Linked DNA regions of Homo sapiens. The protein of the gene in region 1 purifies or fractionates together with the protein of each later gene. This does not show direct contact. Each region holds a gene or a part of one and is shown on either strand. Other genes may lie near its edges. The genes, in order: ARL14EP, DYNC2LI1, IFT172 and ARPC1A.

The links.
Region 2: the proteins of ARL14EP (region 1) and DYNC2LI1 purify together in Homo sapiens (affinity purification with mass spectrometry; one large-scale study listed by BioGRID and IntAct). This does not show direct contact.
Region 3: the proteins of ARL14EP (region 1) and IFT172 fractionate together in Homo sapiens (co-fractionation; one large-scale study listed by BioGRID). This does not show direct contact.
Region 4: the proteins of ARL14EP (region 1) and ARPC1A purify together in Homo sapiens (affinity purification with mass spectrometry; one large-scale study listed by BioGRID and IntAct). This does not show direct contact.

What each region holds. Positions count from the first base shown.
Region 1 is NC_000011.10:30,335,885-30,338,766, reverse strand, and holds the end of ARL14EP (ARL14 effector protein), read right to left. Parts: intron 2,201-2,882; coding exon 1,972-2,200; 3' UTR 544-1,971; downstream 1-543.
Region 2 is NC_000002.12:43,780,539-43,784,110, reverse strand, and holds part of DYNC2LI1 (cytoplasmic dynein 2 light intermediate chain 1), read right to left. Parts: intron 592-3,572; coding exon 557-591; intron 1-556. UniProt on the Homo sapiens protein: Acts as one of several non-catalytic accessory components of the cytoplasmic dynein 2 complex (dynein-2 complex), a motor protein complex that drives the movement of cargos along microtubules within cilia and flagella in concert with the intraflagellar transport (IFT) system, facilitating the assembly of these organelles.
Region 3 is NC_000002.12:27,455,235-27,458,806, reverse strand, and holds part of IFT172 (intraflagellar transport protein 172 homolog), read left to right. Parts: coding exon 1-28; intron 29-583; coding exon 584-681; intron 682-830; coding exon 831-966; intron 967-1,051; coding exon 1,052-1,168; intron 1,169-2,153; coding exon 2,154-2,296; intron 2,297-3,572. UniProt on the Homo sapiens protein: Required for the maintenance and formation of cilia. Plays an indirect role in hedgehog (Hh) signaling, cilia being required for all activity of the hedgehog pathway.
Region 4 is NC_000007.14:99,332,393-99,335,964, reverse strand, and holds part of ARPC1A (actin-related protein 2/3 complex subunit 1A), read right to left. Parts: intron 2,641-3,572; 5' UTR 2,612-2,640; coding exon 2,548-2,611; intron 1-2,547. UniProt on the Homo sapiens protein: Probably functions as a component of the Arp2/3 complex which is involved in regulation of actin polymerization and together with an activating nucleation-promoting factor (NPF) mediates the formation of branched actin networks.

The DNA.
Region 1 (2,882 bases):
GGCAGATCATGAGGTCAGGAGATCAAGACCATCCTGGCTAATATGGTGAAACCCCGTCTCTACTAAAAATACAAAAAAATAAGCTGGGCGTGGTGGCACGCGCCTGCAGTCCCCGCTACTCAGGAGGCTGAAGCAGGAGAATCACTTGAACCCAGGAGATGGAGATTGCAGCGAGCCGAGATTGAGCCACTGCACTCTAGCCTGGGCAACAGAGTAAGACTGTCTCAAAAAAAAATAAAATAAAAGCAAAGAGACGATACCATTCCCCCATCCTCCAAATAGCATCCAAGCAAATTCCAACATCAAGATGCAATCAATTTCCAAAAAATTTATTTATACTCTGTATTAACCAGTGTTTCTCTTTTCCATCCTCACTCCCTAAGGAGTCTTTTTACAATCCTAATCAACCACCCCCAAAATTTTAATACCACAGATATGGTATCTGTTTAAGTACTGTGTGTATATTCATGCTTTATACATCAAGTTTTTGTCCCCCAGAACAATCTTGACAAGGACTGCGTGGCGCTAACAATGAAAAGTTTATAGTATTAAAACTTTTTTATTTGAATAAGTGGGGAGAAGAGAAATATATTTCAGCACTTAGATATATAAATTATTTCCAAAACAGTTTAATACTCAACTAGTCGGTTCTATCAAAATCAGTTTTCCCTGAAGTAAGCACTGTTCCCAGCTACAAGCGATCCTCATTTCACATGGTACTGTGGGACCATAAAAATGGTCCTGCAATCTTAATAATCAATAGGGAAAATGATGATTGTTCCATGACCTTTAAGGTTCTGCTCAAATATTAAAAACTCTTAAGACCAGTTATAAATGTAGAAAAAAATGCAAAAATGTTTAAAAATATTTAGTACACTGTAATTTAAAACATTAGAAATAGAATTAAAGTGTTTTATTTCATTGTAAAAACAAAGTAGTTTGAATAGGGCTTGCCTTTTTTTCTGGCAAGTAACTTACCATACTGAGTAAGCATCTTTTATGTTCACGGCAAACTGCCATACTCCTTCTAAGTTTGGGTCAGCTTCCACCCTTTTATTGCTTGTGCTTTCAATGTTGTGAAATATTTCTATATTCACATTAAATATCTTTTAATGTAAAGTTTTTTTTTTTTAACCATCACTTCCTCTGGGACGTATCTGTCTTTATTGCAACCACTTTGCTTATTTGTGTTGGTAAGTTTGCCTTCACTAAGCTCCTATGAATACACAGCAGCAAGAACAACATTCCCATGGTCAGTGACTTCTTCTACAAATTCATTTATGTTTGATTAAAATTTCACTTCCAGTGTTATCATTTTTCATTGCTTTGCTGCACTTTCATCTTTGTTGACCAGTTCTTTCGAGTGTTCACTTCTATAGAATGTCAAGTAGATGACAGAGAGACAGCATAACTACATGCTCTGCTGTACGTGAACTGAATTAACAGATGCACAGGGACAAACCACTGGAAGAATTTGAAAGAAATAACATGACTGGTCACAATCATGAAGCATATCTGTTATTTACATAGCGATTTGTAGACTGAAGAGCTAGCAGAGAGGTTTGTACTTCATGTAATTACTCAGTTACAATGTGCTAACTAAAATTTTAACCTAGATTTTAACAACAACAGTTTCCTTACCAGTTTTCTTTCCTTCCTGGTAAGGAAACTGGTATTTAAACTAAATCTAGGTCACTGAAATTTGTGCCCATGGGAAACATGCAAATAGAGGACTGCCTACACCCTACTTGTTTATATTGATCCAGACAGGCTTAACGCTGACTACTGAAAAATAGCCTATCTGAATTTATATCAAATAGTGAATCTTAAAGCACCCAAGATGAAAAATTAGGGCACACTGAGATGGTTTTAAAATCTTTGTCATATGATAATCAAGCTTAAAATGTATCTTAGAGTAACAGATTTTTAGAAATAAAGACCTTTAAAGGCTCCATAGTTTGGTACCGCAGATTATCCAGCATGTTTATTATGAATTATTTCTCCTCCTTCAATTTCAATTTGCTCATACAGCCACTTGCGGTCACAGCGGCATTCAGCTCCACACTTGGTAGAACCACAGGCAGGACAAGCATAGAAACATCCTAAGCAGTCTTCATCCAGGCAGTCACAGAGGTCCATCCCACTAAAAATCAGGAGACCCTGGCTATCATAGACCTTACTCTTTGCTGGTATCACTTGTCTGTAAAATAAAACACAATGAATTATACCTCATAAATATGTTATTTTTGATTTAATTGAAAATACAGTAAAAAAAAAAAAGGAGATAAAATATTTTTAGATGAGGTCATGCCAAAATCATCTATAATTTATCAGGCTCAAGGCTTATTCTATCGTCAGCAGTAAATGAACTCCATGTGAGAAGAGGAGACCTAACTCTATAGAGTGTTGAGACAAATCTAAAAATTCTGAATACGCTTCTTGAAGTGCATAATTTTCCCTTTACTTTAAACAAACAAAAAAGAATGACAGGTTAATAGTGGTTCACTTTATTAGCTACCAACCTCTTCACTGTTTTATCAACACAGTTTTATTTTTATTATAGTATACCACCTCTATAGATTTTTATACTACAATTAATGTTTCTTGTTCTTTAATGGACTCTAGTAAATTTGGCCTAAAAATATTTAAATGACTCAATGGTAAATTTTAACAGATGGAATACATGGCATATATAGAAATGTTGACTGAACTTAGAAAAAAAATTCTGAATGATTATATTAACATTTGTTTTAGAGTCATATTCTAAACAATTTAGTTCTCCCATTCATTATGTTGACTATACAGAACTGCATTTCTATTTCAGACATGTAAAAAATAAAAACCTTGCATTCTCATAAAATGTAATTACCTTTTAGCTGCTA
Region 2 (3,572 bases), on another chromosome or scaffold:
TATTCAAATGAAGGGAACAGAGAAATATCTTCCAAAAATGACTGAAGGCTTTCCTCATCAGCTTCCTGAAACATCTACCAATCATACTGCTAAATCTTAATCTGATGGCCTGCTTCTACAGTATACGTTAGGAAATATATAAAATAAATGATAAAATATCCAGTTTGAGGACCAACACTGTGCTTCAAAAATGTACCCCTGAGCAACTAAAGCTTACAATGAATGTTCAAATAATTGTAGATTAGGTAGAACAAAAATAATTTAAATATCAGAGTAGCATAGCCAAAAAGAAGGTAAATACTATTGTAGGTTGGGTAATTATGGTAACATTTCTCCCTCAAATAGGGAAATCCAGTATTAGTCTCATATAATTTTTGGCTTATTGTTAGTTTTATATTTAAAGGCGCTCTTAAAGGTTATACTAAGGATTTGCTAAGAATTAAATATTTTGTTTGGGTCTCAAAATCGTTCCCCTTCCTTATGTCTTTTAGAGCTAACTTGCCCTATACAACTAGAATAAGCATAAATATAGTTTAAAGGTTAACATAACACTTACCTGTCAAGACACCTTAGAATAATAGTAGTCTTTCCCTGGAAATTAAAAAAGAAGGAACACTGCGTTAATGTCACTCATATGTAAAAATTGTATTATTGTTCGTAATTGTGGCCCAAAATAGATTTTTAATCAATTGAATGATAAATTACCTGGAAACTAAAAACTAGAAACTTTCGGAATTGTTCTAAAGTTTGATAAGTGGAAAAAGTTAACTGTCAACTTTCCATCACAGTGTAACTACACTGCTATTATTATAATTATAAAGTCCCACAGATGACAAATACTAGCAAATCATACCTCACTTAAGTGGTCAACTTGGCAGCTGTCTTAAATTTTTTCTCTACTCATCAATGTTAATTACTGGTTAAGCCGATGCTTAGTGTCTTTTAAAATGTTTTAATTCCAATTGTTGAAGTGGAAATAAAGAAAAAGGTAACATACAAATAAAGGACACATTGTAAATATGTTCAAAGTAAGCAATTCAGATACTGCATTAGAGTAATTTGTTTTAAGTCCAGAGGATGTACTTATTCCAAGTTTCTGTTTATTTTTATTTTATTTTATTTTATTTTTGAGACAGAGTCTCACTCTGTTGCCAAGGCTGGAGTGCAGTGGCATGATCTTGGCTCACTGCAACCTCTGCCTCCTGGGCTCAAGTGATTCTCGTGCCTCACCCTCTCAAGTAGCTGGGATTACAGGTGCACACCACCATGCCTGGGTAATTTTTGTATTTTTAGTAGAAACAAGGTTTTGCCATGTTGGCTAGGCTGGTCTTGAACTCCTGGCCTCATCTAATCTGCCCACCTCAGCCTCTCAAAGTGCTGGGATTACAGGTGTGAGCCACCATGCCCAACCCCAAGTTTCTTTTTAGGAGTAAGGAAATACAAGTTCTGGCCTAATTCCTACCACTAGTCAGGCAACTTAACTTCACAGCTTAGCCAGGGATTAGCTCAGTGGTTTATATCATTTTTAAAAAATAGTAAAATCCTTTTTTTTTTTTTTTTTTTAAAGAAAAGACCCCTTGCAAGGAAACAGATAAAAGAGAAACAGCAGGACAAGCTCCACTGGAGGAAACCTTCAGGCTCTAAAGAAAATAATTTGGAAAACTCTGGATTGCCAAAAACACAGAACACTTATTATATGTGTTTTTGTTTTTACTAAAAAAACCTATAGTTTTTGACAAAAAAGATAATTACTCCAGATTATATCTGGAATACGATCAAATTGAGTAAATTTTTTGTAATGAGATATATTAAAAAATAACTGGAATTGTACAATATAAAAATGTATATTATTGAAGGATGTTTATTGGCCAGTGTTACATCAAACTGAAAAACTAAAAACAACCTACATGTCCCCTACTGGCTAAATTAATTATGGTAAACCATATAATAGAATAATATACAGCTATTATGAATGACAATGTAGAAATATACTTACTGACATAGTAAAACATTCATAATAGATCAGCATGTCTCTGTTTTCAATTAAAAAATACTTTTCCTGCTTCCTTGAAGTACACACACACACACACACACACACATAGACAGAAACAAACACACAAATGTAGGGGGACATCACTATGTTAATAATGATTATTTCTAGCTGAAGGATTTGAAGGTAATTAAAGTTTTTAAGAAAATCAGGATTTTCTGCCAGGCATGGTGGCTCACGCCTGTAATCCCAGCACTTTGGGAGGCCGAGGCGGGTGGATCACGAGGTCAGGATATCAAGACCATCCTGGCTAACATGGCGAAACCCCAACTCTACTAAAAATACAAAAAAATTACCAGGCGTGGTCGTGGGCACCTGCAGTCCCAGCAACTTGGGAGGCTGAGGCAGGAGAATGGTGTGAACCCAGGAGGCAGAGGCTGCAGTGAGCCGAGATCACACCACTGCACTCGAACCTAGGCGACAGAGCGAGACTCTGTCTCAAAAAAAAAAAAAGAAAAAGAAAATCAGGATTTTCTAATTTTCCTACAATGAACTTGTATCATATGTAGTATGCTGTAAAAGTTCTAAATTAATAAGGGCTACATTACCCAAAAAGTAATGTACTCTGCAAGAAAGTAGAATAAGAATTGGAAGGAATTTTAAATAATATCTAGCCAATTTCCTCAAATTTTCATGGTACACTAGTATTCATTGATTTAAATCACTCCCCCTCGCCTTTTTTGTTTTTTTTTTTGAGACAGAGTCTCCCTCTGTTGCATAGGCTGGAGTGCAGTGGCACCATCTTGGCTCATGAAACCTCTGCCTCTGGGTTCAAGTGATTCTTAGGCCTCAGCCTCCGGAGTAGCTGGGATTACCAGTATGCACCACCACGTGCAGGTAACTTTTTGTATTTTTTAGTTGAGATGGGGTTTCACTATGTTGGTCAGGCTGGTCTTGAACTCCTGGCCTCAAGTGATCTTCCCACCTCAGCCTTCCAAAGTGCTGGGATTACAGTCTTGAGCCACCACGCCTGGCCTTAAATCACTTTTATTATTATTTCATATAAATGTATAGCACTATATGGTAACAATTCCAAATTAACATAAACTAATCTGGGAACTGAAATCAAGTTTTAGATTATCATTAAAATTACAATCCAAAATTTAAAAATTCATTAGTACACTCTGGTCCCCTGAGCATGTGGCTGTAGTCTTGTGGGTTTCCTAATTCAAGAAACATTGACCTAGTACAAGTTCATTTAGAGACCATCAAAATGAATCCCATCTTCCCTCCCATTGCCTCAATCGCCCCAGATGTCCAGCCCTCTCCTCTGACCCATTATCCCTGGAACTCTGAATTTCCTAACTCTGTAAACATCCCTTAATCTGGCCCAATAATCCCCTTCTGTCTTCCCTTCCTCTAAAATCCTTCCACTCTATGACTTCAGCTCCATGACTGGCAAACTCCCCAATATCTCAGCCTTTTCAGAATATTCTCTCCACATGTTGGCCTTAACTAAAATATGACTTACCCTGAACCCCTTCCTCTGCAGCCTTGTTAAACGAAGCTATTTATTCTCACT
Region 3 (3,572 bases), on another chromosome or scaffold:
GGCTGGTCGTTGGGAACAAGCCCACAAGGTAGGGATGGGTGGAGTTCATGATAAGAGAACTCTGCCTTAGTGGCATTGTGGCCTCATTCCTTGATACCTGTTTCTCCTCTTCGCTTGGCTCCCTGAAAGCTGACAAAGAGTACCAAAAAACAGTCTGAGCCACTTTGATCCCTAGCCATAGGGAAAGGAAGGGATGAAGAGAGGCCCTTGTTTCCAGACCTATCTATCATTCTGAAGGAGCAGATGGGCTTGGGAGCTGGGGAATCTGAACTACCACTCCTAATGCCTCTGGTCACATTGATGACTTTGTTCTTGCGCCTACACTTCAGAGTCCAGTGGTTACCGTGGTAATGGGAGTGTATGCCCCAGCCAAGGCATCGCAGACCTTCCCACCTTAGCAGAATATAGTTCTTCCTCTGCTTCTTATGGACTTGGAATTCCCCAACCTCACTAGTAGAGTGGCAATACCCAAACTCCTGTGATTGTTGGGAGAGTTCAGAGTTTCTGAACAAGCAGGTTTCCTTGAAGCCCTGCTTCCCTGGGGAATTGGATCTGAGGCTGCCTTGCCTCTGTGCCTCCACAGCTGGCGATGAAATGCATGAGACCAGAAGATGTGTCAGTGCTATACATCACTCAGGCCCAGGAAATGGAGAAGCAGGGCAAGTACCGTGAGGCTGAAAGGTGAGCCGTGGCCCCAGAGGAGGTGTAGAGGGAGATGAGATTTCAAGGCTGGGACGAGGGATGGGGTCTGAGGATGTGTACCCTCTGCCCAGAAGGCAGTGATAGCAGGGGTCGGGTCTAGGAGGCCCCAGATGTATCTCCTTCCCCAGGCTATATGTGACAGTACAAGAGCCTGATCTTGCCATCACCATGTACAAAAAGCACAAGTTGTATGATGACATGATCCGCCTGGTAGGGAAGCACCATCCAGATCTCCTCAGTGATACACACCTACATCTGGGCAAGGTGAGCCCTTCTCCTGGCTCTCCCTATCTCTTCCCCAACCAGGCTCCATCTCCCCATCTCTCCATCCTGACTCACCTTCCTGCAGGAGCTGGAGGCTGAAGGCCGACTACAGGAGGCTGAGTACCACTACCTCGAGGCCCAGGAATGGAAGGCAACAGTGAACATGTACCGGGCCAGTGGGCTTTGGGAAGAGGCCTACAGGGTAAGGAGTTCAGGCCACACTGAGGGATACATCCATCCTTCTTTCCCACGTTTTTCCTTTTTTTCAGAAAGGGTCTCACTCTGTCACCCAGGCTGGAGTGCAGTGGTGCAATTATGGCTCACTGCAGCCTTGACCTCCTGGGCTTAAGCACTCGATCCTCCCACCTCAACCTCCTGAGTAGCTGGGACTATAGGTGTGCACCACCACAGCTGGCTAATTTTTTAATTTTTTTGTAGAGACAAGTTTTCACCATGTTGCCCAAGCTGGTCTTGAACTCCTGGGCTCAAGCGATCCACCTGCCTTGGCCTCCCAAAGTGTTGGGATTACAGCTATGAGCCACCTTGCCCAGCCCTTCTTTCCCACTTTAAGTGACTAATTCACAATTGGTCAGAGCATCTTTGAAAATGTAGTGAAGATCAGAGTCTCTCTTGCCAGAACCATGTCCACATCTGTATACAGAAAATTTCACTTATAATTTTAAGGGTCTGTGGACCAGGTGAAGCCTATCCTTGGACCCTAAGTACTTTAACCTAAGTTAAGAAACCCTGAAATTTAGCCCTCTTCCTGTTAACTTTTTATTTTATTTTATTTTTTGAGATGGAGTTTCGCTCTGTCACCCAGGCTGAAGTGCAGTGGCACAGTCTTGGCTCACTGCAACCTCCACCTCCCGGGTTCAAGCAATTTTTCTGCCTCAGCCTCCCGAGTAGCTGGGATTACAGGCACTCACCACCGTGCCCAGCTAATTTTTGTATTTTTAGTAGAGATGGGGTTTCACTATGTTGGCCAGGCTGGTCTCGAACTCCTGACCTCAAGTTATCCTCTTGCCTCGGCCTCCCAAAATGCTGGGATTATAGGTATGAGCCACCACACCCAGCCTCTTCCTGTTCAATTTAGAACAGTTACTGGATCCTTGTCAAAGCCGAGGTCAGAGATGAGAAGGGAGAAGCTCTGTATTGCAGGATTATTGAGTGACTTTGCTTTACAGGTGGCCAGAACTCAAGGAGGGGCTAATGCCCACAAACACGTGGCCTATCTGTGGGCAAAGAGCCTGGGAGGAGAGGCTGCAGTTAGACTGCTTAATAAGCTGGGACTCCTGGAAGCTGCTGTTGACCACGCTGCAGACAATTGGTGAGGCCCCAAGCTTTCTCTCCACGGGCCCCATCCCAGCCAGAGCCACTATCTAGAGAAAGAAAATTGATGTATAACTGAAAGAAAGATCCTTGGAAGGACATGATAGAGTGGCATGAATAAATTAACTGCTTCTATTCCCTAGGGGCTCAGAACAGTGTTTAACCTTTGGCTGTTCTAAGAAGGGTGGAGAGGAAACAGATTGTAAAGCTAGGACTGCAGACTGCACTAAACCAATAACTTACTCCTGGGTAATGGAAGTGTGATTCTGTCAAATGCAGAGTGAACTGTTTTTTTTTTTGAGACAGAGTCTCACTCCGTCGCCAGGCTGGAGTGCAGTGGCACGATATCAGCTCACTGCAACCTCCACCTCCTGGTTCAAATGATTCTCCTGCCTCAGCCTCCCGAGTAGCTGGGACTACAGGCATGCACCACCACGCCCATCTAATTTTTGTATTTTTAGTAGGGATGGGGTTTCACCATGTTGGCCAGGATGGTCTTGATCTCTTGACCTCGTGATCTGCCCACCTTGGCCTCCCAAAGTGCTGAGATTACAGGCGTGAGCCACTGCGCCTGGCCGAACTTTTCTTTTTTTTTGGAAGCACCAGAGTCCGTGAAGCATTTTATTTGTAAATATGTATTACATCTCTAGAAAAAGAATCCCAGGATTTTCCCTCCTATATGTTGCTGTCTTGCTTCTTCATGGTCCATGATGCCAACTGAGGTTGTCAGTACAATAAAACCAAACTGGCAGGATGGGAGCAGATTATTCTGCCATTTTTCTTTTTTGTTTTTTTTCTGAGACAGAGTCTCGCTCTGTTGCCCAGGCTGGAGTGCAGTGGTGCAACCTTGGCTCACTGCAAGCTCCGCCTCCCAGGTTCAAGCCATTCTCCTGCCTCAGCCTCCTGAGTAGCTGGGACTACAGGTGCCCGCCACCACGCCCGGCTAATTTTTTTGTACTTTTTTAGTAGAGACAGGGTTTCACCCTGTTAGCCAGGCTGGTCTCAATCTTCTGACCTTGTGATCCACCTGCCTTGGCCTCCCAAAGTGCTGGGATTACAGGCGTGAGCCACCGCGCCCGGCATATTCTGCCATTTTTCTAGATCTCTGATTTGCACATCAAATCTGGGGCTGATCACTCTACACTTGTTTAGCCTGCCTGTGAGGTTCACAGCAATTTTCCTAGCTGTGATCATCAATTATTTCAAAATCGCCAATTTACCATACTTCAGCATCACAATTAGAAACCAGACGATGACTTTGGAGCACAGCCTAA
Region 4 (3,572 bases), on another chromosome or scaffold:
TTTTCTTTTTTGAGACTGAGTCTCACTCTGTTGCCAAGGCTGGAGTGCGGTGGCACAATCTCGGCTCACTGCAAGCTCCGCCTCCCAGGTTCACGCCATTCTCCTGCCTCAGCCTCCCGAGTAACTGGGACTACAGGCGCCCGCCACCACACCGGGCTAATTTTTTGTATTTTTAATAGAGATGGAGTTTCACTGTGTTAGTCAGGATGGTCTTGATCTCCTGACCTCGTGATCTGCCTGCCTTGGCCTCCCAAAGTGCTGGGATTACAGGTATGAGCCACCACGCCCAGCCCTGAAATGCTTTAAAAAGATGGTGAATCTACAGATTCAAAGTAATCTCTGTCAAAATCTCAGCTGACGTCTTAAAAGAAATTAACAAACTGATCCTAAAATTCATATGGAAATGCAAGCGACACAATAACCAAAATAATCTTGAAAAGAACAAAGTTGGAACTTACACTTCTTGATTTCAAAACTTACCACCAAGCTATAGTAATCAAGACAGACTGGTCCTGAAATTAGGATAAACATAAAGAACAATGGAATAGAATTGAGAGTCCAGAAATAAACTCTCATCTTTACAGTCAGTTGATTTTCAAAAAGGGGGCCAAGGCAATAAAACAGAGAGGATAGTTTTCAACAAAAGGTGCAGGAAAAACTCGATTATCTTGGCCGGTGTGGTGGCTCATGCCCACTAAGTATATCCCAGCACTTCGGGAGGCCAAGGCAGGTGGATTGCTGGAGGCCAGGAGTTCGAGGCCAGTCTGGGTGACATAGCGCATCCCTGTCTCTACTGAAAATACAAAAATTAGCCAGGTGTGGGCCGGGCGCAGTGGCTTACACCTGTAATCCCAGCACTTTGGGAGGCCAAGGCGGGCAGATCACGAGGTCAGGAGATTGAGACCATCCTGGCTAACAGGTGAAACCCTGTCTCTACTAAAAATACAAAAAAAATTAGCCGAGCATGGTGGCTGGTGCCTGTAGTCCCAGCTACTCAGGAGGCTGAGGCAGGAGAATGGTGTGAACCCCGGAGGCGGAGCTTGCAGTGGGCCAAGATTGTGCCACTGCACTCCAGCCTGGGCGACAGAGCGAGACTGCGTCTCAAAAAAAAAAATATTAGCCAGGTGTGGTGGCGCATGCATGTAATCACAGCTTCTTGGGAGGCTCAGACATGATAATCACTTGAACCTGGGAGGCGGAGGTTGCAGTAAGCCGAGATTGCACCACTGCACTCCAGCTTGGATGACAGAGCAAGACTCTGTCTCAATAAATAAATAAATAAATAAACACAGAAAAAAAGAAGAAAAAAATGAAAACTGGATATCTACATACAAAAGGAACCCTATCTTACAGGATACACAAAAATTAACTCAAAATGGACCAAAGTCCTACATAAAAGGACTAAAGCTTTAAGACTCTTAGAAGGAAACACAGGCATAGGCACACATTGTTGTGATCCTGGATTATGCAATGGTTTCTTTGATACAACAGCAGAAGTACAAGCAACAAAAGAAAAATAAGCGAAATTGGACTTTTTCTCCCCAATCCTGCTCTTTCTGTGTTTTTATTATTTAATTATTATTGTTATTATTTTTTTTTTTGAGAAAGAGAGTCTTGCCCTGTCACCCAGGCTGGAGTACAGTGGCACAATCTCAGATCACTGCAACCTCTGCCTCCCGGATTCAAGCGATTTTCCTGCCACAGCCTCCTGAGTAGCTGGGATTACAGGCAGGTACCACCACACCTGGTTAATTTTTTTTATTTTTAGTAGAGATGGGGTTTCACCATGTTGGCCAGGCTGATCTCGAACTCCTGACCTCAAATGATCTGCCCGCCTCGGTCTCCCAAAGTGCTGGGATTACAGACATGAGCCTCCATGCTCAGCCTTGTGACAAAGCGAGACTCTGTCTCAAAAAAAAAAAATACATATATATGTGTGTGTGTGTGTGTGTGTGTGTGTACACACACACACAGTTTTTCTATTTTTTTTCGTAGAGACAGGGTTTCCCCATGTTGCTCAGGTTGGTCTTGAACTCTTGAGCTCAAGATATTTGCCTGCCTTGGCCTCCCAAAGTGCTGGGATTACAGGCAGGAGCCACTGCACCCAGCCTCATCTTGTCATATTATCTGTCACTTTGCTTGCTGAACTGTGCCTACTTCTAAGAGCATTCTCCATCCCTTTCTAGTTTGCTGGAGCTAGAAAACTAGAAACTCAAGCTGACTAAGAATAACATAGTAAATACTAGTTAATAATGCTCTGAGTAGCTCAGGAGCAAACCACTTGTCTCTGAAACAGCTTATTCTAGGTCCTAGTGCTCTGACTAAATGTGAACTTGGTATGTAACCTCTGCAAAGCCCTTCCTTCACTCTGGGCCTCAGTTTATCTATCTGTAAACCAAAGGACTGACTTAGTTCCCTTCTGAATGTATATAATAGATGTATGTTCTTTGCACATGTGATACTGAGATATGTGAGCCCTAAATGTGTCTAAAGATGAAATGTACCAAAGGTACCAAAATACAAAAGCAAAGTTAATAAAATACTTACGAGTACGATCCCTGTTCCAGGCATGACAGGTGATTGGCTCTAGTAAAAACTGATGCAGTGACATTATTCTTAGTGTTTTCAAAGGAGAGAAAGCTGCAATGAACAATAACAAAAAGCATTTTATACAATAGGGAAAAGGCAAGTAACCAATGTTTAAGTTGCCTGAGGATCTTAAGATGTTCGGAAATAAATAAAACATTGTCCTCCCATTAAAAAATAATCTGGCCAGGCACGGTGGCTCACGCTTGTAATACTAGCACTTTGGGAGGCCAAGGCAGGTGGATCACAAGGTCAGGAGTTCAAGACCAGCCTGGCCAACCTGGTGAAACCCAGTTTCTACTAAAAATACAAAAATTAGCTGGGCGTGGTGGCACACGCCTCTAGTTCCAGCTACTCGGGAGGCTGAGGCAGGAGAATTGCTTGCATCCAGGAGGCAGAGGTTGCAGTGAATCAAGATCATGCCACTGCACTCCAGCCTGGGCGACAGAGCGAGACTCTGTCTCAAAAAAAAAAAGGCCGGGCATGGTGGTCACACCTCTAATCCCAGAACTTTCTTTGGGAGGCCAAGGCAGGCAGGTCACGAGGTCAGGAGATCCAGACCATCCTGGCTAACACGGTGAAACCCCGTCTCTACTAAAAATACAAAAAATTAGCCGGGCATGGTAGCGGGCGCCTGTAGTCCCAGCTACTTGGGAGGCCGAGACAGGAGAATGGCGAACCTGGGAGGTGGAGCTTGCAGTGAGCCGACATCGCGCTACTGCACTCCAGCCTGGGCGACACAGTGAGATTCTGTCTCAAAAAAAAAAAAAAAAATCTATCTCATTGTCAAAACTTAACCATCTGAATAAATCTAGCATTGTAACAACTAATGTGGAATTTATTCTGTTCAGGGTCGTCAATGGACTCTTAAACCATGGGTACAGGATATTCCTAGTCTCAAATTATCATCCCACAGATTGCTTATTAACTACAAAGAGAAAAAGATGCCTTTACGTTGAAGAAATCTGGCAATCACCACGTAATCA